Regions from separate parts of the Homo sapiens genome. Here region 2 is linked to region 1. The links come from fine-mapping of genetic effects on gene expression. A gene starts in region 1. The other region holds a variant in brackets. All regions are shown on one strand. Distances are between the middles of the regions. Region 1 holds the start of FOLR3 (folate receptor gamma). Region 2 overlaps FOLR1-AS1 (FOLR1 antisense RNA 1).

Region 1 (11,791 bases):
AAAACAGATTTTGAAAGGGGTCTATCTGCTTTTAATTCCTGGGGTTCTATAAGAAAAACAGAGTTTTTTTTTTTTTTTCCAAAATGGGATCCGTGGTGACTTCTCTGTTTTTCCCAAGGTGTCTTATGCTCTCAGAAGTTATCTTAGGGCCTCTCATGCATGCGTTAAGAGTGACAAGACAAATTGGGGAAAAATAATTCAGTTGACTGAGAAAAAATTGTTTTGCAGAGAAACAAGATCCATGAAGAAAAAAACACAAAGGCCTTTTAAATATACCTATAGCTTGGATATCCACTTTTAATTAAGCTGAGCACTCTTTAAGATAACCCTTTTAAATCCCTTAGTACCCAACTTTAGCCATGCCAAGCCACGAATATTTCTGGCTTTTGAACTTTACCATTTCTTTCAACATTTTGCACAGGGAGAGAGAGGCCAGAGGCCCGACTGGCAGAAAACTTTTACCCTTCTGTCCACATGTTCACAATTCTTTCCCCTTCTCACTCCATCCTTATTCCACTCTCAGCCTTCCTCATCTCAGTAAATAGCCAAGCACTCCTCTCTAATTGCTCAGACCAACACACTCTGGAGTCATCCTAATTCCTCCCTTTCTCTCATGTCCTCCATCTCAGCAAATCCTATCAAAACATCCTTCAAAAGACATGACATTACTCCTCCCTTTTCACCACGTCCACTGCCACCACATAGCCCTGGTTCAAGTCATGGTTGCCTTAAGGCTGGGCCATTCACATAGACATCTGTGTCAATTGTTTGCTTTCCCTTGTCCCTAGAGTCAGATCAGATGCTGAACTGGAAAAAGCAAATAAAGTTTCCATTTCATTCAGAGTAAAATCCCCCATCTTTGCTGAGTCTGAACCACGGGGCCCTGAAGATCTGGCCTGGACCCCACACCTGCCGCTCCCAGCTCACTGCTGGCCACACTGGCCTCCTCCTCGCTGTTTGTTCCTGAAATGCACTGAGTACATTTTTGCTTCAGGGCCTTTGGACCTACGGGTCCCTCTGTCTGGAGCACTCCTTCCTCCATGTTCACATGACTCCCTTCTTACCTCATTATGGTATCAGCCCAAGCATCACCTCCTAGATCTTTCCTGTAGAAGATAGTAGCCCCTGCTTCATCACTCTCTGTCCCCTTAGCCTGCTTCAGTTTTCTTCAGAGCACAATCATCATCTTTATTTGTTTTCTGTCGTCTCTCTCTAACAACCTCCCACCCCCAAACTAGAATGTCAGCTCTATGACAGTAGGGACTTTTTCTTGGTCACTTCTGTAGCTCTAGAACCCAGAACAGCCTAGCACATGGTAGATGCCCAATAACTAATTCTGAGCTTAGTTTTTGAATGAATCCCCACTTCTACCCTCCTGGTCAAGGCACCATCATCCCAGGCCTGGACTTGTGAAACAGCTTTCTAACTGGTCTACCTTGCCCAATTCCAGCCTACACGTAATCCCATCTGAACACACCAAGACTGCCAATTGAACTGTGACATTCCCCTGCTTAAAACTCTTTCACTGTGACCAGTTGTAGAAACAACATTTTGTTTATCCATTTATCCATCCGTGGACACTTGGGTTGCTTTCAACTTTTAGCTATCGTGAATTAATGCTGCTGTGAATATGACTGCACAGATAGCTGTTTGCATCCCTGCTTTCAATTCTTTTGGGTGTGTGCGCACAAGAGGAATTGCTGGATCATATGGTAATTCTATGTTTAATTTTTTTTCACAGCATCTGGACCATTTTACATTCCCCCTCCACTAGATATGTTATTATATACAAAGGTGGACGGCTATACAAGGACATTCCCTACAGCATTGACTATAACAGTGAAATATGAGAAGCCACTTAAATTCAATAGAATAATGAAATAGAATCATATAGATCTATGTACACAGATAAGGGACCATCTATAGTACATTCTGTTAAGTAAAGCAAGCAAAGTGAGCTGGGCACAGTGGCTCATGCCTGTAATTCTAGCACTTTGGGAGGCTGAGGTGGGAGGATCACTTGAGCCCAAGACGTCAAGGCTGCTATGACCTATGATTATGCCACTGCACTCCAGCCTGGGTGACAGAGAGAGACCCTGTCAAAAAGAAAAAGAAAAAAGAAAAGAAATCAAAATGCAAGGGAATTAGGGGTTATTCTTCTTCCTGAGGACTGGTGCCATGGCATCCAGAGAAAGAACATTGGTGGGGATACTGATGAAAAAGAATAAAGTTTGTAGATTAGTTAAAAGTATTCCCTTAATGTTAATTTCCTGATTTTTTAAGTAATTGGGCTTTGGTTTTGTCAGATGCCAACATTTGGGGAAACTGGATGAAAGCATATGGGAAACCTCTTTACTACTTTTGCAATTTTTCTGTTAAGTCTAAAATTATCTCAAAACACTAAGTTAAGAAAATCAAATAAACTTGATGTCTTAAAACAATACCAATTAGGCTGGGCGCAGTGGCTCATGCCTGTAATCCTAGCAATTTGGGAGGCTGAAGTGGGCCGATAACCTGAGGTCGGGAGTTCGAGACCAGCCTGGCCAACATGGTGAATCCCCACCTCTACTGAAACTACAGAAATTAGCCTGGCATAGTGGCATGTGCCTATAATCCCAGCTACCTGGGAGGATGAGGCAGGAGAATCACTGGAACCGGAAGGCAGAGGCTGCAGTGAGCTGAGATCACACCACTGCACTCCAGCCTGGGGGACAGAGCAAGACTCTGTCTCAAAACAAAACAAAACAAAAACACAATACTTATTTACTTATACTTCAAGATTTTGTGAGTTTAATTATACTTCAAGATTTTGTGAGATTTTGCCCAAGAATTTGGGCAAGACTCATGATTGGCCCATCTTGGCCGGGCGTGGTGGCTCACCCCTGTAGTCCCAGTATTTTGGGAGGCCTAGGTTGGAGGATTGTTTGAGCCCAAGAGTTGAAGACCAGCCTGGGCAACATGGCGAAACCTCCTCTCTACAAAAATACAAAAATTAGCTGGGCGTGGTGGTGCGTGCCTGTAGTCCCAGATACTCAGGGAGGTTGAGGCTGCAGTGAGCCATGATGGTGCCACTGCACTCCAGCTGGGGTGACAGAGTGAGACCCTGTCTCCTAAAAATAAAAAATAAGGTAAAATAAAGATTGGCCCATCTACCCTCAACAGTTGCCTGGACTCCCTGGGGCTCAGTGCACCTAGATGCTGGACTCGGATAACCATCTGATCTTTGATGTAGTGGACAGACACTTTGTTCTTGCCATCATCTTTGGTACCTGAGATAGAAAGCCTTAAAGAGAGGCCACGCCCATGATTAAGTTTCAGGTCAAAACAACGAGCAAAAAGGCAACGGCTATAGTTGTAGGTGTAGCAAATCAGTGTGCCTTTTATCTAGAGGCTACTGAAAACCAGACATTCATTAAAGATATTCTGGTCACTTGGATGAAGGCTGGCCTTGGCATTCACCTGAATCTTTAGTAGAGTCTTTAGCACCATTGGCAACTCAGCCAGACCTGGCCTTGGCCACGATAGTGGAGCCTGGGATTGGAGGGCATGAATTTTATGAAGCCTGTAATATCAGAAATTCGTTGGTTGAGGACATACCTCTTTCTTTTTGGACCCTGTGGGCGTAATGCTATTGATACATGTGCAGAGGAGGAATTAATATGACTGTGATTGACAGAATAATTATGAAGTGCAAAGACCTCAGATCTGTGATCAGCTTCCATAGAAGTATTTGCTCAGAAGCTTCTCAGAAACATTCTCATGATTGAAGAAGCCTTGAAGAGCCCGTATTTCTGTCTATGAAATCTCCTGTTTATTGTACTATGAGGACCCATCAGAAAGTAACTGAGGTAGTGCTGATTTCCTGAGCAATTATTCAGTCCACTGTCTCAAATCCATCATGCAGAATGTTCACAGAGGGTAAAGTAAGTTTGACTATTATAACTACTCACTTTTATAAGTGATTTAATTTAAAGATTAATATGATAAGTACTCTGTTTTTCCTGGGAATTTTGTTGTAGAAAGAGTAACTGCTGTGTGGCTAAACTAAGGTTATAAGCCAAATTGTTTCCTCAGAGTTTAAGAAACACAATACTAACTCTCATGGGTTTACTAGTTGTCTGTTGCTGCATAACAAATCATTCCATAATTTTGTGGTGTATTGCTGCAGACAATGTTAAACTAAGTGGATGAAAAGGATATTCACATAGTCTCAGAGTGTCTCCCTACAAGGTAGGATTACTAACAAAGGGAAACTAATAATTATATAGTAAGGAAATCTCCTTAACCCAATAATCACCAGCAATAAGATGCAGCAACCCTCATCATGTACCTCTTGATATGATGCACTGACAAAAGCACCTCTCTTCTCTAATTTTCTTGCCAAAATGCATAAGCTCAAGCTAATTACAGGAAAATATAGACAAACCCAAATTGAGGGACATTCTGCAAAATAACTGAACAGTAATTCTCCAAAAGTGTCAAGGTCATAAAAGACAAAGACATTGAGGAACTGTCACAGATTGGAGGGAGACTAAGGGGACATGACAACTACATGCAACCTGGAATCATGGACTGAATCCTGGGCCAGAGAAAGGACATTGGGGGGGAAACTGGTGTAAAGGGCATAAAGCTTGTAGATTAGTTAACAGTATTGCCTCAATATTAATTTCCTGATTTTTTTAAGAACTGGGCTTTGGTTACATAAGATGCCAATATTTGGGGAAGTTGCATAAAAACATACGGGAAATCTTTTGACGATGTTTTGCAGTTTTTCTGCAAATCTAAAATTATTTCAAAACAAAAAGTTTAAAAATCAAATACACATAGTTGCTTGAAATAGTAACTATTTTATTATATTCCAAGATGTTGTGAGTCAGGAATTTGGCCAAAACTCAGGTGGGCGATTCTTCTGCAAAGACCCCCACAACACATTCAAAGTCACAGGCAGAGGTTGTTGGGGGAGGGCATTGAAAAGAAGAGAAGAGTCATAGGTGGGTGCAATGGAGGGAGGGCAGAGGGCTGCTGACTATGGTGCAGGACTCATCCATAATGGAGCCCTGGGGAGGCAAGGGCTTCATAACTAGACACTGGTCTTGTCACCTCAGACTCACCTGTAGCAGGACCAGATACTGAGGTCAGACTGAAAACACAGGCTCTGCCTCAGGAGAGGCTCTCTACTAGCTGAGTAAATGATGACAGTATTGGAAATGTTCCCAACATCATAATGGGAAAACATCACTTCACACTACATAAGCAATACACAGGGGCAGTGCCGGTCGTCTTCCCAGGTTAGTAGCAGTTCTACTGCCTCCAAGAGTGTTGGAGAAATACAAACCAAGCATTAGGCACTTTTAACTTGAAAACATGAAGTTCTCTTTCCTAACTTTCTTTGTTTCCTTATTTCTTCTTCTTCTTCTTCTCCTTCTTCTTCTTCTTCTTCTTCTTCTTCTTCTTCTTCTTCTTCTTCTTCCTCTTCTTCTTCTTCTTCTTCTTTCTTCTTCTTCTCCTTCTCCTTTTCCTTCTTCTTTTTTTGCTGAGACAGGGTCTCACTCTGACAGTACAGTGGTGCCATCACAGCTCACTGCAGCCTCGACCTCCAGGGCTCAAGCAATCCTCCCAGCTCACCCTCCCAAATGGCTGAAACTACAAGCTCGCACCACCATACGTGGCTAATTTTTCTATTTTTGTGTGCAGATGAAGTTTTCCTATGTTGCCCAAGTGGTCTCAAACTCCTGGGATCAAGTGATCCATCCACCTCAACCTCCCAAAACGCTGGGATTACAGGTGTAAGCCACCACACCCAGCCCACTAACTTTTTTATATCGGCTAATGAAATAGTTTTAAGTTTAGACCCTACGAGGCATAAAGAAATAATTTTAGTTATGTTATCAGATGTACAGTAATACTCAAGTGTGCAACTGTGGATAACTTGAGTTCATGAGGTTTTTGTTTTTTTGTCAAAAGAATAAATTTATAGTGAAACTACCCAAAAAAGCAAAGTACAGAACAGTATGCTACCATTTGTGCACAGAAATGGGATATATATGGTGTAACTGCATCGAATTTACTGGATGTATGTCCAGGGACCAGAACTCTTGGTGGCTTCATGTTCATACTTTTGCAAGCACATGTGTAGTATCCTTAACTTAAAGGTACTGTTGTATACATTCTAGTGTTATCAAAATTTACATACATATTATCAAGTCAGAGAGGTCATTCTGTGTCTTAGTATTTTCACTTCATATTTGGTATATTTATGTATGTATACACACATACCTATATGTATTTAAATAAGATTTATAGTCACATGGTCCAAAAATCAAAACAATGTGGAAAGGTTTACAGAGAAAAGTCTCAAGCCTAATCCTGTTCTCTACTGCCAGGTGACCATGTTATTAATTTCTTTTCATACCTTGCCACAGAATTTTCACCTGCAAACACAGATATTCTTTTCTTTTTTAATGACAGAGTCACGTTCTGTTATCCAGGCTGGAGTGCAGTGGCGTGATCTTGGCTCACTGCAAACTCCTCCCGGGTTCAAGTGATTCTCCTGTCTCAGCCTCCTGAGTAGCTGGGATTACAGGCATGTGCCACCACACCCAGCTAATTTTTGTATTTTTAGTACAGATGGGGTTTTATCATATTGACCAGGCTGATGTCGAACTCCTGACCTCAAGTGATCCGCCTGCCTCGGCCTCCCACAGTGCTGGGATTACAGGCGTGAGCCACCACGCCCAGTCAACACAGACATTCTTACTCCTTTTTTACAGAGAATTTATTATTATTATTTTTTACATAGCATTTTTCTGCACCTTTCTTTTTCCACTTAACAATGCACTTGAAGATTTTTCCATATTTGTACATCAGGAGCTTTCTCTTTCTTTGTTACCACATTAAATTCCACTGGGTAGATGTACCATAATTTAACTGGGTCCTTATTGAAAGACAATTGAGCTGTCTCCTAGACAAAGCCTTGTGCACCTTCCCGAACAGAGGGTCTAACCAAGCAGGCAGGATGGGGTTATAAAGTAGGTGGGGAGGTGGGAGAGACTCCACCTTCCCAGGTGGGCTGAGAATGGAGGTAAGGCCCTGCAACAGGACAGAGGGAAAAGTGGGGATGAGAGGTGGGAGGCGAGATAGCGCCCACTGTTCTCGCTCAGCCCCCTCCTCCGTTTGCCGCTGACCTGTTGGCCTCCCCCAACCTCTGAGCCTGCCTCTGCCTAGGTAATTTCCCAAGACCCAGAAGGGGTGAAGGGTGAGGTGTGATTGCCCCCACCTCCTTGCCTCCCGCAGCATCTGCTCCGGGACCATGAACAATAGCTGACAGCTCCATGGCCCTTGCTGTCCCCATCTCAGCTTCCCTGGGCATCTAAACCTCAGCTGCCATGGGGTAGGAGGACAGGCTGAGGAAGCAGAAGCCTGAGGCTGTCTAGAGTCTCACTCCTGCATCAGCAGGCCACCACCTGTGGTTCCTCCTTGTGCAAATTTGAAAAGAATTGCATAAAACACTGGAGAAATCCAAGAGGGGAAGTCCACAAGGGCGGTGGCTCCCTACAAGGTCACAGAGCAAGCTGGTGTCAGAGCCTGGACCTACAGCGCTGTTGGTGGAGGTCCTGCCTCCAGGTAGGGGAAGGGCTCCCTCTCACCTCTACACGCAGCGCATTTCTTGGCTCAGCTGCCCTGTAGGGGATGCAGGGTGGGGACAGCAGAGATCTGGGCCTGGGAGGGAGAGAGTACACAATCACATGGCTGTTGCCCCTGTCTCAGGCCTTGTCTACCTCTGACTGTGGCTCTCTGGCAGGAATAGATGGACATGGCCTGGCAGATGATGCAGCTGCTGCTTCTGGCTTTGGTGACTGCTGCGGGGAGTGCCCAGCCCAGGAGTGCGCGGGCCAGGACGGACCTGCTCAATGTCTGCATGAACGCCAAGCACCACAAGACACAGCCCAGCCCCGAGGACGAGCTGTATGGCCAGGTGAGGGCAGCCTGGTGTAGGACAGCATGCACACAGGTCAGAGGGTGATGGCACGAGCAATGGCAGGTCCAGTGTGGTCAGAACCAAGGGTGCCGCTGCTGACAAGGAAGGGGAGGGGCGGCCAGGGCCACCATGCCACAGGTAAGGCCACTGAGGCAGCTTGGGGAATATGAGCTCCAATTTGAACTCCAGGCTCAGGAGTGTGCTTGTATTTCATTCCTCTGGTCTCCTGGCCTGCTCCCTACAAGGTTTCACATTCCCAGAGGGCTGGGGATGTGCCTAGGGAGAGACTGTGGCGTGGACACAATCTGTGGGTTAAAGCGAAGACAGGACAGCCTGGAAGCCCCATGACATCTGAGTCACTCCCAACATTCCATTTGCTTATTTTTAAATCGGGGTTAAAAAAAAAAAACAAATACATAACATACATTTTCCACTTTAGCCATTTTTAACTGTACGGTTCAGTGGCATTAGGTATGCTCATGTGGTTGTGCAACCATCACCACCATCCATCTCCTGACCTCTTTCATTCTCCAAAACTGAAATGGAAACTCTGTGCCCACCACTTCATTTGCTTTTCAGAACCTTCTAGAGCACATCCTCCTTGCCAGGAAATGGTGTGGATGTAGACCTTTGAGAGAGACAGATGACTATCATTCTCAGGGCCATGAGCTATATGAGAGTGATGATATTTGTTGAGCCCTTACTATAGCAAGGGAGTTCTTCTCATTGTACTCAGTAACTCTTTTGGAGGCAACAACCCTTGACCCTGACAGGCAGGACCCATGTCTGCCAAACCCTAAGACCCATGATGTGCAAGGGGTCTTGCAGGAAGACCAAGAGTTGGAACATCCAAGGAAAAGCAAGTGTGAAGTCGGGCTGGCAGGGAAGCATGTTCTGTGTCAGCCGGCACTGGGCGTGGGCCAGGGTGTGGGAGGTGGGTAGGTCTGGCTCCCCTCCCATGGATTTCCCTATTGTTTCTCCTGGGTGCTCAGGCCTGTCACGCCTCTGCCATCACTTGACCCTAGGTGCAAGGGTTCAGCCCAGAAATTTTATGCAATTGATTCATGATTTCTCAGGTTTTCTGAGTCCTGGCCTAGAGTGACTTCCCAAGAAAAAACTCCACCATTTCTGCTTGTCTTACCTGCCTTGTATTTACCTTTCTAGGATTGCCTTTTCCACATTTAGTCAAGTCTAGGTTCAGACCCACGTGCAGGCTATAGCTCCTTCGTTCTCCACCACTCTCAGGATCTATCTAGAGTCTCCCCACCTGGACCTCCAGACCCTGGGAGAGCCAGACCAGCCCCTTGACCTCCACCCTCCCCCACAACCTGGGCCAGGTTCCTCTCCTCCCTGTCCTCAGTTATAATTTTTTTTTTTTTTAATTTGAGGCAGAGTTTCGCTCTTGTTGCCCAGGCTGGAATGCAATGGCATGATCTTGGCTCACTGCAACCTCTGCCTCCTGGGTTCAAGTGATTCTCCTGCCTCTGCCTCCTGAGTAGCTGGGATTACAGGCGCCTACCACTGTGCCTGGCTAATTTTTTGGTATTTTTAGTAGAGACAGGGTTTCTCTGTGTTGGTCAGGCTGGTCTCGAACTTCTAACCTCAGGTGATCCGCCCGCCTCCTTAAATCTTAACCTCACTGTTTACCATGGGTGTAGCTTACTTAAACTCTGTAAAAATGGGGGTAAGGATTCGTACTGGGTTGTTGAGAGGATAAAGCGCAAAAGCCTCAGGGACTTTGCACCTATGGTTTTCTATGCCTAGAGTGTTCTTTGTCTCCCTTCTACACACAGCCCACCCACCCACTAAAACCATACCCTCCCTGAGGGTAGAGGTGTTATTTGTTTTCTTCACTGTGGTGTTCCTAGGACCTAGCACAGTGCCTGATGTATAATCAGCACTCAGTTAATATTGGCTGGATGCAAAATGAATAATATAAATAAGCTGAATAACATGAAATAGGCCGAACGCGGTGACTCACGCCTGTAATCCCAACACTTTGGGAGGCCAAGGAGGGTGGATCACCTGAGGTCAGGAGTTCGAGACCAGCCTGGCAAACATGGTGAACCCCCGTCTCTACTAAAAATACAAAATTAGCTGGGCATGGTGGCACGTGCCTGTAATCCCAGCTACTTGGGAGGCTGAGGCAGGAGAATTGCTTGAACCCGGGAGGTGGAGGTTGCAGTGAGCCAAGATCACGCCACTGCACTCCAGTCTGGGCAACAGGAGCGAAACTCTGTCTCAAAAAAAAGTTAGTTTAATAACATGAGATCACTTTTTAAACCGTTAAGAGCTGTACTACTAATAATTACTCTCTCAGACAGTGGCTCTCCCTCATCTCCTATATCCCGTGGATTACCCTCTGTTAAAAGCCAAAATTAAGCAGGCATGGTGGCTCACGCCTCTAATCTTAGTATTTTGGGAAGCTGACATGAGCCAAGGAGTTTGAGACCAGCCTAGGCAACATAGTGAGACCCCATCTCTACAAAAATACTTTATATTAGCCAGGCATGGTGGCATGTGCCTGAATTCCAGCTCCTCGGGAGGCTGAGGTGGGAGGATTATTTGAGCCCAGGATGTTGAGGCTGCAGTGAGCTATGATCACACCACTGCGCTCCAGCCTGGTCAACAGAGCAAGACCCTGTCTCAAATAAATAAATGAATAAATAGGGCGGAAAGCACCAATATTGTAATTGCCTCCGTCCCCAGGTGGGAGCTCCTCAAGGGCCCTCCCCAGGAAGTGTTCCTCTGGATGACCTACCTGGGGCAGAGGAGCCAGAATATGGAGGAGATGGCTGTGGTGGGGAGAGACTTAGTCCTGTGTCTTCCCCACCCAGTGCAGTCCCTGGAAGAAGAATGCCTGCTGCACGGCCAGCACCAGCCAGGAGCTGCACAAGGACACCTCCCGCCTGTACAACTTTAACTGGGATCACTGTGGTAAGATGGAACCCACCTGCAAGCGCCACTTTATCCAGGACAGCTGTCTCTATGAGTGCTCACCCAACCTGGGGCCCTGGATCCGGCAGGTATGAGTGCTGTTCCCACAAACATTAACCTCAGCAGAGGGCGGAGCCTGCCAGTTGCTGGCAGGGAGGGCTTGGTCCAGGAATTCGGGTCTGAGGGTGGTGGACGCCCTGCCCCCTCCCACAGCTCTGGTCCCCTTCAAGGGTAAAGCTGCTGAGATACGTGGCTGACAGGAGTATTCTGTCTCCTCCCCACTCAGGTCAACCAGAGCTGGCGCAAAGAGCGCATTCTGAACGTGCCCCTGTGCAAAGAGGACTGTGAGCGCTGGTGGGAGGACTGTCGCACCTCCTACACCTGCAAAAGCAACTGGCACAAAGGCTGGAATTGGACCTCAGGTGAGGACCTGAGGAGATAAGATGAGGAGTGGGAGTGGGGCTTTGGGGTTGGGAGGGGTGCGGTCTGGCCCAGAAGCTAAGGGTCTTACGTTCTCCTCCCTCAGGGATTAATGAGTGTCCGGCCGGGGCCCTCTGCAGCACCTTTGAGTCCTACTTCCCCACTCCAGCCGCCCTTTGTGAAGGCCTCTGGAGCCACTCCTTCAAGGTCAGCAACTATAGTCGAGGGAGCGGCCGCTGCATCCAGATGTGGTTTGACTCAGCCCAGGGCAACCCCAATGAGGAGGTGGCCAAGTTCTATGCTGCGGCCATGAATGCTGGGGCCCCGTCTCGTGGGATTATTGATTCCTGATCCAAGAAGGGTCCTCTGGGGTTCTTCCAACAACCTATTCTAATAGACAAATCCACATGTGTCTTGTGTCTTGTAATTTCGGGACGAGTGGGTTGGAGGGACACA
Region 2 (12,544 bases), 28 kb after region 1:
TGGTTGAAACGCCTCTGACAGACCCACCAGAGGAGCCCTTCAGTTTGTATTAATATGATATGTGACTACTTATTTCACAGACACTGTGTGTCAAATGTCGGTACAATGCCAACAACTCACTTTCTTGGTTGTTGAGTTTCCGCATTACACAAATAAGGAAGCAGGCCCAGAGGAGAGCCTGGGAAATGAAGTTGGAGAGACCCATCCTGGGGTTGCTTGATTTAGGGATTTAGACTGGGAATGACTCCTCCATAGATCTGAAAGAAGAAACTGCACACTGTTCATAGTGGCTTCTTTTCTGCCAGCCCTAAACAGCTCAAGAAAGGAGAGTCTCTCAGTTATGAGGCTGGGTGTGAAGCATTTTTTTTTTCTTTGAGAGAGGTCTTGTTATGTTGCCCAGGCTGGTCTCCAAATCCTGGGCTCAAGCGATCCTTCCACCTTGGCCTCCCAAAGTGCTGGGATTACAAATGTGAGCCACCACATCCGGCCTGAAGCATCTTGGTTCATGCATCTAGCAAACCTTCAGTCTGTGTCTCTCAATCCCACTGGACATGAGGTCTGCCTATAACAATTATTTGGCTACAACCCCTTTAATATCCTGAACTTAGCTAAACAGTTATTTTAAAAATCCATATTCAAATATAACTAAAGAAGAAACAGAGGAAAAGTAATTTGTAATATGGATTTCTATTTATATTCGTTTTGACTCCATTAGCAGATAGCAGTCACTGCCCTGTTTGCACTTGTTTTGAATCAGTGAGCCTGTAGCTGCCAAGTGCAGACTAACAAGAGGTAAATAACCTGTATACCTTGAGCAGCTCTGACTTTAACTTATTCTTTTATTTTTTATATTTTTATTTTTTTTTATTTTTATCTCTTTTTAGACATGAGGTCTCACTATGTTGTCCCAGTTGACCTCAAACTCCTGCACTCAAGTGATCCTCCCACCTTGGCCTCCAAAGTACTGGGATTATAGGTGTAAACCACTGTGCCTGGGCTTTTATATATTTTTTAAGTGCACATTTTAATGTTTAGCTTGTCAGCCTTAAGTAACGAGATCCAGAAAGCTTGAGGATAGCTACACAGAAGCATAGATTCAAGTTGTCCTGAATATACACTTCGATTCACAGCAGTTACAAGTGAGTTTTTAAGGAAACAGAATAGTTCCTAAGTTGTTTATCAAGAATTTAAAATAAAATAACATAAGCAATTCATTGGCTATACATTGTTTTTTGTATCACAAATTCCAGGAACAGATAACGGGTGAGGCAGCTAGTCAGGGACAAAACGCCTTGGAACAATTGTCTCTGGGCATGGGTGGGGAGGGTGTGACTGAAGTTCCATACTCATGCCTTTCTGGGCCTGATAAATTGGGCATGTCTCACATCATGAGACTGCTCTGAGCTATTTTTCTTTTCTCAAGCTTTATACCAAATTCTAGGCCGTGGGCTTTCATTCATTCAATAAGTATGTATTGAGTGTTTATGTAATCGGAACTCTTCTGGGGTTACAATTTAACTTACTTTCTCACCTCCGAATGGTTATCACCTCAACGAGGACTAAATCCAATGATTTTTTTTTATCTTGCCAAAATTCCTATCTAAGGGGTCTGGGGAGTCATGCCCTACAAATCATAAATTCTCATCAGATGGGTTTTATTTAACCCTATATATCATGACTTACTTTCCAACCTGACTCTGGCATAACATGACGAGACAAGGAAGAAAAGCAAAATATTTTAATATTTTTACCTCAAAACATGTTTCTTTGCCATATCTTGAAATGGCCCTGCTACTGTCCTTTGTGGGGGAAAATTTTCATCTGTAAAGAATCTCTATTAACATAGCTGGATCTTTTTCTACCAGGCCCTTCCAATCATAAAGAGATTAACTAAGTGTAGCACCTTTTATAGATCTGAATAGGAAACACTTGTCATCTGTTGTTTCTAAGGGCAGCCACTATAAGACTTCAAAAGAACCTTGGTCTCCACAGTCTTTTATCTTAACATTTCTTTTCTATCAACCCCAGGTCTTTAGACAAACTCAACCAATTGTCAACCATAAAATGTTTAAATTTACGTATAGCCTGAAAGCCCTGCCACCCCACTTTGAATTGTCCCACCTTCCTGGACCAAACCAATGATTTTTTTTTTTTTTTTTAGATGGAGTCTCCCTCTGCCGCCCGTGCTGGAGTGCAGTGGTGTGATCTCGGCTCGCTGCAACCTCCGCCTCCTGGGTTGAAGCAATTCTCCTACCTCAGCCTCCTGAGTAGCTAGGATTACAGGTGCCTGTCACCACGTCCAGCTAATTTTTTGTATTTTTAGTAGAGACAGGGTTTCACTATGTTGGCCAGGCTGGTCTCAAACTCCTGACCTCAAGATCAGCCTGCCTTGGCCTCCCAAAGTGCTGGGATTACAGGCGTGAGCCACCGTGCCTGGCCAATGTATTCCTTAAATGCATTTGATTGATGTCTCATGCTTCCCTAAAATGTATGAGACATCCTTCTCCCCTGATTGTTTTCAAAAGCAGTGATCCATTGAGGTGCTCATTTTTGTAACCCCAGTTACTAGAAAAGTGCCTGGGTAAGAGTATGTAGGATCTCTATAAAAGCTGAATTAACGAATTTTGTAATGACTGCACCTCCAGACAGGAGCTGTCTTCCGGGCTTCCACAGTCTCTGACAGCCCTCTCCCACAAAGAGTTTACCAACAGCAAGGACTTTCCTGGATGACTTCCACTGGGTTGGGGATTAAGGATTGAAAGGGGAGAGGCTGGGTGTGGAATATTCTGGCTGTGCTGGCTGTGGACTTAGTCCTGTGTCTTCCCGCATCCAGTGTAGTCTCTGGAGAAAGAATGCCTGAGCTTTACCAGCACCACCCAGGAAGCCCATAAGAATATTCCCATCTATATGGATTCAACTGGAACCACTGTGGAGAGATGGTACCTGCCTGCAAACGGCACTTTATCCAGGACACCTGCCTTTACGAGTGACCCCCCAACTTGGGGCCCTGGATCCAGCAGGTACGCATGGCTTCCTGGCATCCAAGAGCTAGCAGAGGAGCTGAATTTTCCAGGCGTCTCTGCAGGCAGCAACCCCAGCTCCAGTTCTATTCAGGGCTGGGTTCCTGGGATTCTTGAGCCTGAGCCCTTCTTTTCTACCAAAATCTCCCAGGTGGATCAGAGCTGGCGCAAAGAGTGGGTGCTGAATGTGCCCCTGTGCAAAGAGGACTGTGAGCAATGGTGGGAAGATTGTCGCACCTCCTACACCTGCAAGAGCAATGGGCACAAGGGCTGGAACTGGACCTCAGGTGAGGGCTGGGGTGGGCAGGAAAGGAGGGATTTGGAAGTGAAGGTGTGTGGGTGTGGAACAGGTGTGTGACATTTTGGGGTTGTAGGGCTGGCAGAATCAGAGACCCTTTGGGGCCCAGTGGCTAAAGGTCTTCCCTCTTCCCTACAGGGTCTAACAAGTGCCAGGTGGCAGCTGCCTGACTACCTTTCCATCTCTACTTTCTCACACCCACTGCTCTGTGCAGTGAAATCTGGACTCACTCCTACAGGGTCAGCAACTACAACCGAGGGAGCAGCCGCTGCATCCAGATGTGGTTCGACCTGGCCCAGGGCAACCCCAATGAGGAGGTGGCAAGGTTCTATGCTGCAGCTCTGAGTGGGGCTGGGCCCTGGGCAGCCTGGCCTCTCCTGCTCAACCTGGCCCTAATGCTGCTGTGGCTGCTCAGCTGACCTCCTTTTACCTTCTGATACTTGGACATCCCTGCCCTGTTTAGCCCCACAGCTCCCAACTATTTGGTTCCTCTTCTATGGTCTTGTCTCTGACAGCCACTTTGAATAAACCAGACACCACACATGTATCTTGAGAATTATTTGGGTATGAATGGGAATGTGGCTGTTTTGTTTCCCATTTCTTATTGATTGAAGCCAGTTAGACTGGGCTAGTTCCCAGCTCTGATGCTTGCTATGAACTAGCCTGATACTTAAGTATTCTTCTAAGGTAGGAGACATTTGTAGCTCTCGATTTTATTATTCACTATAGCTCCAATTTAGAGCCAAGCCCAGGCATTTTTCTTTTTTTGAGACAGGGTCTCACTCTCTCACCCAGGTTGGAATGGAGTGGCATGATCTCAGCTCACTGCAACGTCTGCCTCGTGGGCTCAAGTGATCCTCCCACCTCAGCATCCCAAATACTTGGGACTACAAGCATGTGCCACCACACCTGGCTAATTTTTCAATTTTTTGTAGAGAGGAAATCTTGCAATGTTGTCCAGGCTGGTCTCAAACTACTGGGCTCAAGCAATCCTCCTACCTCAGCCTCCTGAGTAGCTGGGTCTACAGGTGTGAGCCTCCACATTCAGCTAATACATATAATATAAAACATGTATTATATATGTAATAGTAGAGACAGGGTCTCACTATTTTACCCAGGTTGTTCTCAAACTCCTGCGCTGGAGTGATCCTCCCAAAATGCTGGGATTACAGGCATGAGTCACTGCATCTGGCCACAAGTCATGTTTATTTCTTGCTCAAGCTACAATGCTGAATGTGGGTTATCAGGGGGATTCTGTTTATTTCTCATTCCTGGACTACATTAGCAGCCAGGGGGTTCTGCTTCTCACTCAAGAACCCACGCTGATGGAGGCTCCATCTTCCATGAGACAGGAAGAGGGAACTTGGCAAATTCCATAAGGCTCTTCAAATTTCCACCCATCACTTATTTCATTGGCCAAATCAAGTCATGAGCATGCCTAAATTCAAGAAAGCCAGGAAAACATAATCCTATCATGTACTTGCAAGGAGAGGGGAATCACAAGGTTTGCAACAGACCTAATCATGAGTAAAAAGACTTCATTATTTTCTCGTAGATTTCTGTTTCTGGCATGGTCATAGTTACAAATTTAATTTTTTGGTTAGATCCTAGTAAGAAGGAGGACCAACTCTCTATACATATGCAAATAACTACATCAACCTGAAAAGTGGAGCAATCCACTGATGACCGCCCTGGCTAGTCTTGTAAACAAGGCCAATTGATGCCTTTTCGCCCTTCATTTATTTCTATTTATTATTTTTATTTTTTGAGACAGGGTCTCTTTCTGTTGCTCAGGCTGGAGTGCAGTGGCACAGTCATGGCTCACTGCAGTCTTGACCTCCTGAGCTCAATTGATCCCTCAACTTTAGCCTCCCAAGTAGCTGGGACTACAGGCACATGCCACCATGCTGGGCAAATGTTTTGTATTTTTTTTGTAGAGATGGGGTTTTGCCATGTTGCCCAAGCTGGTCTTGAACTGCTGCGCCCAAGTGATTCATTCACCCACCTTGACCTCCTAAAGTGCTGGGATTAGAGGCGTGAGACACCTCTGCCAGCCCACTGATTTCTTTTTTGAACCGAAAGCATAGTTGATCAATGCAAAAGCTAATAATTGGATATTAACAAAATTCAAAACTCTTGCACTTTAAAAGACACCCTTAAGAAAATTAAAAAACAAGCAACAGACTGGAAGGAAATATTTGCAAACACATCTGATAAAGGATCTGTATCCATAAAATACAAAGAACACTTACAACTCAGTAACAAGAAGGCAGACAACCCAATCAAATAATGGGCAAAAGAAATGAACAAATATGTCATTAAAGAAGGTACACAAATTATGAATAGTTACACGAAAAGATGCTCAACATTATTAATCATTAGAAAAATGGAAACTAAAACCATAGTGATAGACGGTTTTATACCTACTAGAATGGCAATAATAATAATGATAGGCAATAACAAGCATTGGCAAGGATGTGGAGAAATGGGAACCCTCACACAGTGCTGGTGGGGATGTAAAATGGTACAGCCCTTCGGAAAACAGTGTGGCAGTTTCTCAAAAAGTTAAATGTAAAACTGCCATACAACCCAAAATTCCACTCCCAGGTGTCTACTCAGGAGAAACGAAAACAAACATAACAAAACTTAAATATGAATATTAATAATAATCATATTTATGTATGTAAATATGATGTATCATTTATGTATGTAAATATGATATATCATATTATGTATCATTATATATAATAGCCCCAAGCTGGCAATAACCTAAATTTTTAGCAGCTGGTGAGTAGATAGACAAAATGTGGTGAATCCATACAATAGAAGACTGTGCAGCAATGAAACGTGATGACACATGCTATGTCGTGGATGAGCGTCAAAAACATTATGTTAAGTGAAAGAAGCCAGACCTAAGAGGCTTCATGTGGCATGATTTCACTTACATGAAATGTGCAGGGAAGGCAAATTTATAGAGGCAGAAAGTAGATTAGTAGTTGCCTGGGGCTGGAAGTGACAACAGGGATTAATTGTAAATGGGCATGAGGGGGGATAAGAATTGAGGGGATGATTCTGAGTTTCTGTGGGGTGTATCCATGAGGGAAAGTATTCTAAGGAAATTGGCATGTGGCTCCATAAAAATCTATCATCTGAGACAAACTCCATTCCCATCATGAACTTTAAAATATTGGTTGGAAGCCAAGCATGGTGGCTCATACCTGTAATTCCAGCACTTTGGGAGGCCAAGGCAGGTAGATCACTTGAGCCAGGGATTCTAGAACAGCTTGGGCAACATGGTGAAACCCCGTCTCTACATAAAAATACAAAAAATTTAGCCCAGTGTGGTGGTCCACGCCTGTAGTCCTAGCTATGCAGGAAGCTGAGATGGGAGGATCTCTTTAGCTCAGGAGGTAGAGGCTGCAGTGGGCTATGACTGTGCCACTGCAGTCCAGCCTGGGTTGATAGAGTGAGACCCTGTCTCAAAAAAAAAAAAAAAAAAAAATAGGAATTGCTGGATGGTAATGTTGTAGGAGTTTCTCCTCAGTTCAGCCAAAGACAGGGTCCTTGTCACCTGGCCATGAAATATTAGGCTTGCAGACACTTTGAAGGGTGAGAAAAATGGAATTTATTGGG[CA/C]AAAAAAAAAAGCGGGGAAACGGGGACCCTCGGCAGAGTGAGAGTCCTGCTAGTACACGCTTCCCACCTCTCAGGTTGAATCCCAGGTTCCACCCTGGAAGAGGAGGGGCCAGGCTCCTCAGCACGAACTTCCAGAGGCTCCACCCCAGTGCACATTCCTCCCAGTGTGCGGGTTTGTCAGAGGTTCTCTGGGGACCCCTTTACACTTGGCTGTCTCATTCCCCCCTCTCAAGAAGTACATCAAACTACTGTTAGAACAAGGATAGGGGTGAGGACGAAGACCGATCTAAACTGCTTCCTGCTAACAGGGAGCGGTGTTTTGGGAAACGGCAGTCAGAGCTCCCTCAGAAGCCTATCTAAGGGTTCCCGGCAGAAGGCGCCATCTTCCGAGGCTCCGGTTGCACGACCATTTGGAGTTTGATGGCCTGAAGGCAAGAGGAGAAAAACCAGGTTATTAGAAAACATGTGTTAAAACGAAACAAGGGAGGGTAAGGACAGCTTAAAATCCCTAGGCCTTTTACCAGTTTGCACAGGGAGAGGGAAACCAAAAGCCCGACTGGTAAAAAAAACTTTACCCTTTTGCCAGCATGTCATGCTTGTGGGTTCCCTTCCTCTGAGCCCAATCCTAAGCCAACCAGCTGAAGGTTTGGGAAATTAACTCTTTCCAGTTTGGAGGATGCATCTGAGGGGAGTGTCCTATAGTACAAAGACACAATTACCTATTAGTGAAGAGAAGACAGTGGAGAAGAAAGGAAAAAAAGGTGCTTTTTAAAGGAGTCCCAGGGGTTCAGCATGCATTCAAAAGGGGTACAGAGTGAAGATGAATGGCTACCCATCTAGAAAGAGGGGAGCAGGCATCCCTGTCTCCTATCTCTTTCTAGCAGATACCAGGGGTACATGAGGGAGAGAAGGAAGAGCGTCCTCTTTCCCTCTTCTGTCCTTGCATACCCAAGTCCTGGTGACCTTGGCAGGTGCTGCCATGGGTGCCACAGCAGCTTGCACCCATGAAGCAGGGAGTACCTAGAGAATAGGAATTATCAGCCAGACTCAGTGGCTCACGCCTGTACAACCCAGCACCTTGGGAGGCCGAGGTGGGCAGATCATGATTTCAGGAGTTTGAGACCAGCCTGGCCAACATGGTGAAACCCCGTCTCTACTAAAAATACAAAACTTAGCTGGGTGTGGTGGTGCATGCCTGTAGTCCCAGCTACTCGGGAGGCTGAGGCAGGAGAATCACTTGGTCCCAGGAGGCAAAGGTTGCAGTGAGCCAAGATCACACCACTGCACTCCAGCCTGGGCAACAGAGTAAGACTCCATCTCGGGGAAAAAAAAAGAGAGAATAGGAATTATCCGCTCTTACCTATGTTTCTATACCCCCTACAGTCAGTAGTCTTGGAGTTTCCTAGACCTCATTTATGCTGTGGGGAAAAGCAAGAGAGATCAGATTGTTACTCTGTCTGTGTAGAAAGAAGTAGACATAGGAGACTCCATTTTGTTATGTACTAAGAAAAATTCTTCTGCCTTGAGATTCTGTTAATCTATAACCTTACCCCCAACCCTGTGCTCTCTGAAACATGTGCTGTGTCAACTCAGAGTTGAATGGATTAAGGGCGGTGCAAGATGTGCTTTGTTAAACAGATGCTTGAGGGCAGCATGCTCCTTAAGAGTCATCACCACTCCCTAATCTCAAGTACCCAGGGACACAAAAACTGCGGAAGGCCGCAGGGACCTCTGCCTAGGAAAACCAGATATTGTCCAAGGTTTCTCCCCATGTGATAGTCTGAAATATGGCCTCGTGGGAAGGGAAAGACCTGACCGTCCCCCAGCCCGACACCCGTAAAGGGTCTGTGCTGAGGAGGATTAGTAAAAGAGGAAGGAATGCCTCTTGCAGTTGAGACAAGAGGAAGGCATCTGTCTCCTGCCTGTCCCTGGGCAATGGAATGTCTCGGTATAAAACCCGATTGTATGCTCCATCTACTGAGATAGGGAAAAACCGCCTTAGGGCTGGAGGTGGGACCTGCGGGCAGCAATACTGCTTTGTAAAGCATTGAGATGTTTATGTGTATGCATATCTAAAAGCACAGCACTTAATCCTTTACATTGTCTATGATGCAAAGACCTTTGTTCACGTGTTTGTCTGCTGACCCTCTCCCCACAATTGTCTTGTGACCCTGACACATCCCCCTCTTTGAGAAACACCCACAGATGATCAATAAATACTAAGGGAACTCAGAGGCTGGCGGGATCCTCCATATGCTGAACGCTGGTTCCCAGGGTCCCCTTATTTCTTTCTCTATACTTTGTCTCTGTGTCTTTTTCTTTTCCAAATCTCTCGTCCCACCTTACGAGAAACACCCACAGGTGTGTAGGGGCAACCCACCCCTACATATGCCATGGATACTAGCATGACCTTTATCCATGAAATGGGAGGCTTGGCTTGATTGGCAGGAATTAGCCATGCTCACTTGCACGCACTGTGCCTTTTTTTTTTTTTTTTTTTTTTTTTTTTTTGAGACAGAGTCTCGCTCTGTTGCCAGGCTGAAGTGCAGTGGAGTGAACTCGGCTCACTGCAACCTCCGACTCCCTGGTTCAAGTGATTCTCCTGCCTCAGCCTCCTGAGTAGCTGGGATTACAGGCACGCACCACCATGCCCAGCTAATTTTTGTATTTTTTTTTTCGAGATGGAGTCTTGCTCTGTCGCCCAGTCTGGAGTGCAGTGGCATGATCTCAGCTCACTGCAACCTCCACCTCCCAGTTCAAGCGATTCTCCTGCCTCTACCTCCCAAGTAGCTAGGATTACAGGTGCATGCCACCATGCCTGGCTAATTTTTGTATATTTAGTAGAGACGGGGTTTCACCGTGTTTGCCAGGATGGTCCCGATCTCCTGACCTCATGATCTGCCCGCCTTGGCCTCCCAAAGTGCTGGGATTACAGGTGTGAGCCACTGTGCCCGGCCTTGCACTGTGCCTTTTAACCCCTGTTATCATCTGCCTCTGAATCCCTTAGATCCAGTTTTCTTTCCTGGGGCTTTGACTCAAAGCTTGGAATAGAATTTGAAACAAAAATATGTGTCTAGGAAGGGCTGCATGGACTCCTTATCATAAGCCAAATGCTAAGGAAGGTGAAGCTGCAGAATTGAGTCCTCCTCCAACAAGGGAGAGAAAAAGATGTCTTGTGACATGCCCAGATAATTGGTGGCTATAGTTATGTAAGCTAGGATTTGGGTGCATGGTGCTTGGCTTTGGTTAGCTCTTACTTTCCAAAAAAGGAAACCTCCGATTAATGGGCATCCTATTTATTCCCATCACCTGGCAGGATTTGCAGGATAATTGCTCAGAACTAAAATATTGATCCAGATTTTTACATTACCCATCCTCTCCTTCTTTCTGAGCTGCAGCTGGAGATTGCTGGTTGGTTCACAGGAACAAGGAGTGTTAGCCTAAAAATGTAGGCAAAAACTTAAACACTAATGACTTTAGAATTTATTGACAAATGTATGGTGTTTTGAAACATAATTTCTCTCTCTCCAGTCCTCATTTTTGTTAAAAAAGCAAATTATGGTAGGATTGAGTTGTTTGCAAAATAGACTTTAGTCATATACTTGGCCTGATTATTTGCATAAAGTGCAGCAAGAATAACTATTTCTACATAAGTCTTTTAGATTGGCTTTGATGGAACTCTGTTCTTCAAGGAATTTCAGACAAAACGTTTTAAAACTGAGCCCAGCCATGGATTTGTATCCTCAAATACCTGTAAGTTGGATGATCTTCTCGTGTTAAGGTCCCATGACAAATTTGGAGCTCCTAGACCTGTTAGAAAGTGACATTCTTGGCCAGGCGTGGTGGCTCACACCTGTAATCCTAGCACCTTGGGAGGCCGAGGTGGGCGGATCACCGGAGGTCAGGAGTTCGAGACCAGCCTGGCCAACATGGTGAAACCCTGTCTCTACTTAAAATACAAAAAATTAGCTGGGTGTGGTGGCAAGTGCCTGTAGTCCCAGCTATTTGGGAAACTGAGGCAGGAGAATCACTTGAACCTGGGAGGCGGAGGTTGCAGTGAGCCGAGATCATGCCACTGCACTCCAGCTTGGCGACAGAGCAAGAGTCTGCCTCAAAAAAAAAAAAAAAAGAATACTCACGGATAATTTCCAAATTCTGGAGAAGCCAGGCAGAGAGAGAGAAAAATATGCTTCAAATTTTGTTCACAGGAGTGTAGCTTACTCTAGTATTAAAGGCCTTAAAGAGTTCAAAATAATTTTCCTTGACTCTGAGAAACAAAACAAGGATCAGCAATATTCCAAGCAAAAGTCAAAAAGGTTGCTTCAGCTTTCTGAGTTCAGTCCATTCAGTTCTTGTTATGCTTGATATTCGTGAACATTTTAGCTCTTCATGAGTCCTGTACATTTTCCTTTATTCCAATATCACAGTCTCCAAAGTTATCAGAAACCTGTATTTGAGAGCACCTGTCAGAGTCCTATAGCTTATTACAAACCAACTTTATTTTTTTTTGAGACAGGATCTTGCTCTGTTGCCCAAGCTGGAATGCAGTGGTGAGATCTTGGCTCACTGCAACCTCCACCTCCTGGATTCAAGCGATTCTCCTGCCCCAACATCCTGAGTAGCTGGGATTACAGGTATGTGCCACCATGCCCGGCTAATTTTTGTATTTTTTTTTTTTTAGTAGAGATGGGGTTTTACCATGTTGACCAGGTTGGTTTTGAACTCCTGACCTCAGGTGATACCCCTGACTTGGCCTTCCAAAGTGCTGGGATTAAAGGTGTGAGCCACTGCACCCAGCCGGATCAGGCACTTTTAACTTGAAAACATGAAGTTCTCTTTCCTAACTTTTTTCTTTCTTTCTTTTTTTTTTTTTTTTCCGAGACAGGATCTCACTCTGTCACCCAGGCTGGAGTGCAGGGATGCCATCACAGCTCACTGCAGCCCTGACCTCCTGGGCTCAAGCAATCCTCCCAGCTCATCCTCCCAAATGGCTGGGACTATAGGCTTAGACCACCATACCCAACTAATTTTTGTATTTTTGTGTGAAGATGAGGTCTCCCTATGTTTCCCAGGCTGGTCTTGATCTCCTGGGCTCAAGCAATCCATCAGCCTTGGCCTCCCAAAGCACTGGGATTATAGGCATGAGCCACCAAGGACGGCCCCCTAATGTTTTTTATATTGGCTAATGAGCTTTAAGTTTATACATACAAGGCATAAAGAAATAACTTTAAAGTTATGTTATTAGATGTACAGTGATATGATTTAGCTCTGTGTCCCCACCCAAGTCTCATCTTGTAGCTCCCATAACTCCCATGTGTTGTGAAAGGGACCTGGTGGGAGATGATTGAATCGTGGAGGTGGGTCTTTCCCGTGCTGTTCTCATGATAATGAATGGGTCTCACAAGATCTGATGGTTTTAAAAACGGGAGTTTCTCTGCACAAGCTCTCTCTTTGCCTGGTGCCATCCACATAAGATGTGACTTGCTTCTCCTTGCCTTCCACCATGATTGTAAGGTCTCCCCAGCCATGTGGAACTGTAAATCCAATAAACCTCTTTCGTAAATTGCCCAGTCTTGCATATGTCTTTATCAG

Evidence for each region. PIP is the estimated chance that this variant, and not a neighbour inherited with it, causes the effect.
Region 2: its variant is fine-mapped to the expression of FOLR3 in monocytes (Quach 2016, PIP 0.93).

Annotation. Positions count from the first base shown.
Region 1 is chr11:72,128,146-72,139,936 of GRCh38, forward strand. FOLR3 (folate receptor gamma) reads left to right here and starts at 7,580. Exons shown (of 5, transcript NM_000804.4): 1 at 7,580-7,623; 2 at 7,802-7,975; 3 at 10,816-11,004; 4 at 11,202-11,337; 5 at 11,442-11,747. The coding sequence starts at 7,808. The coding sequence ends at 11,686. It also overlaps the pseudogene RPEP6. RefSeq lists an enhancer at 10,686-11,189.
Region 2 is chr11:72,156,003-72,168,546 of GRCh38, forward strand. It overlaps FOLR1-AS1 (FOLR1 antisense RNA 1), which reads right to left. Exons shown (of 3, transcript NR_199595.1): 3 at 7,320-7,377. It also overlaps the pseudogene FOLR1P1. Among named protein-coding and RNA genes, the nearest start is that of FOLR3, 27 kb to the left of the region's middle. RefSeq lists an enhancer at 8,724-9,533. The variant CA/C (reference allele first, on the strand shown) is at 6,952.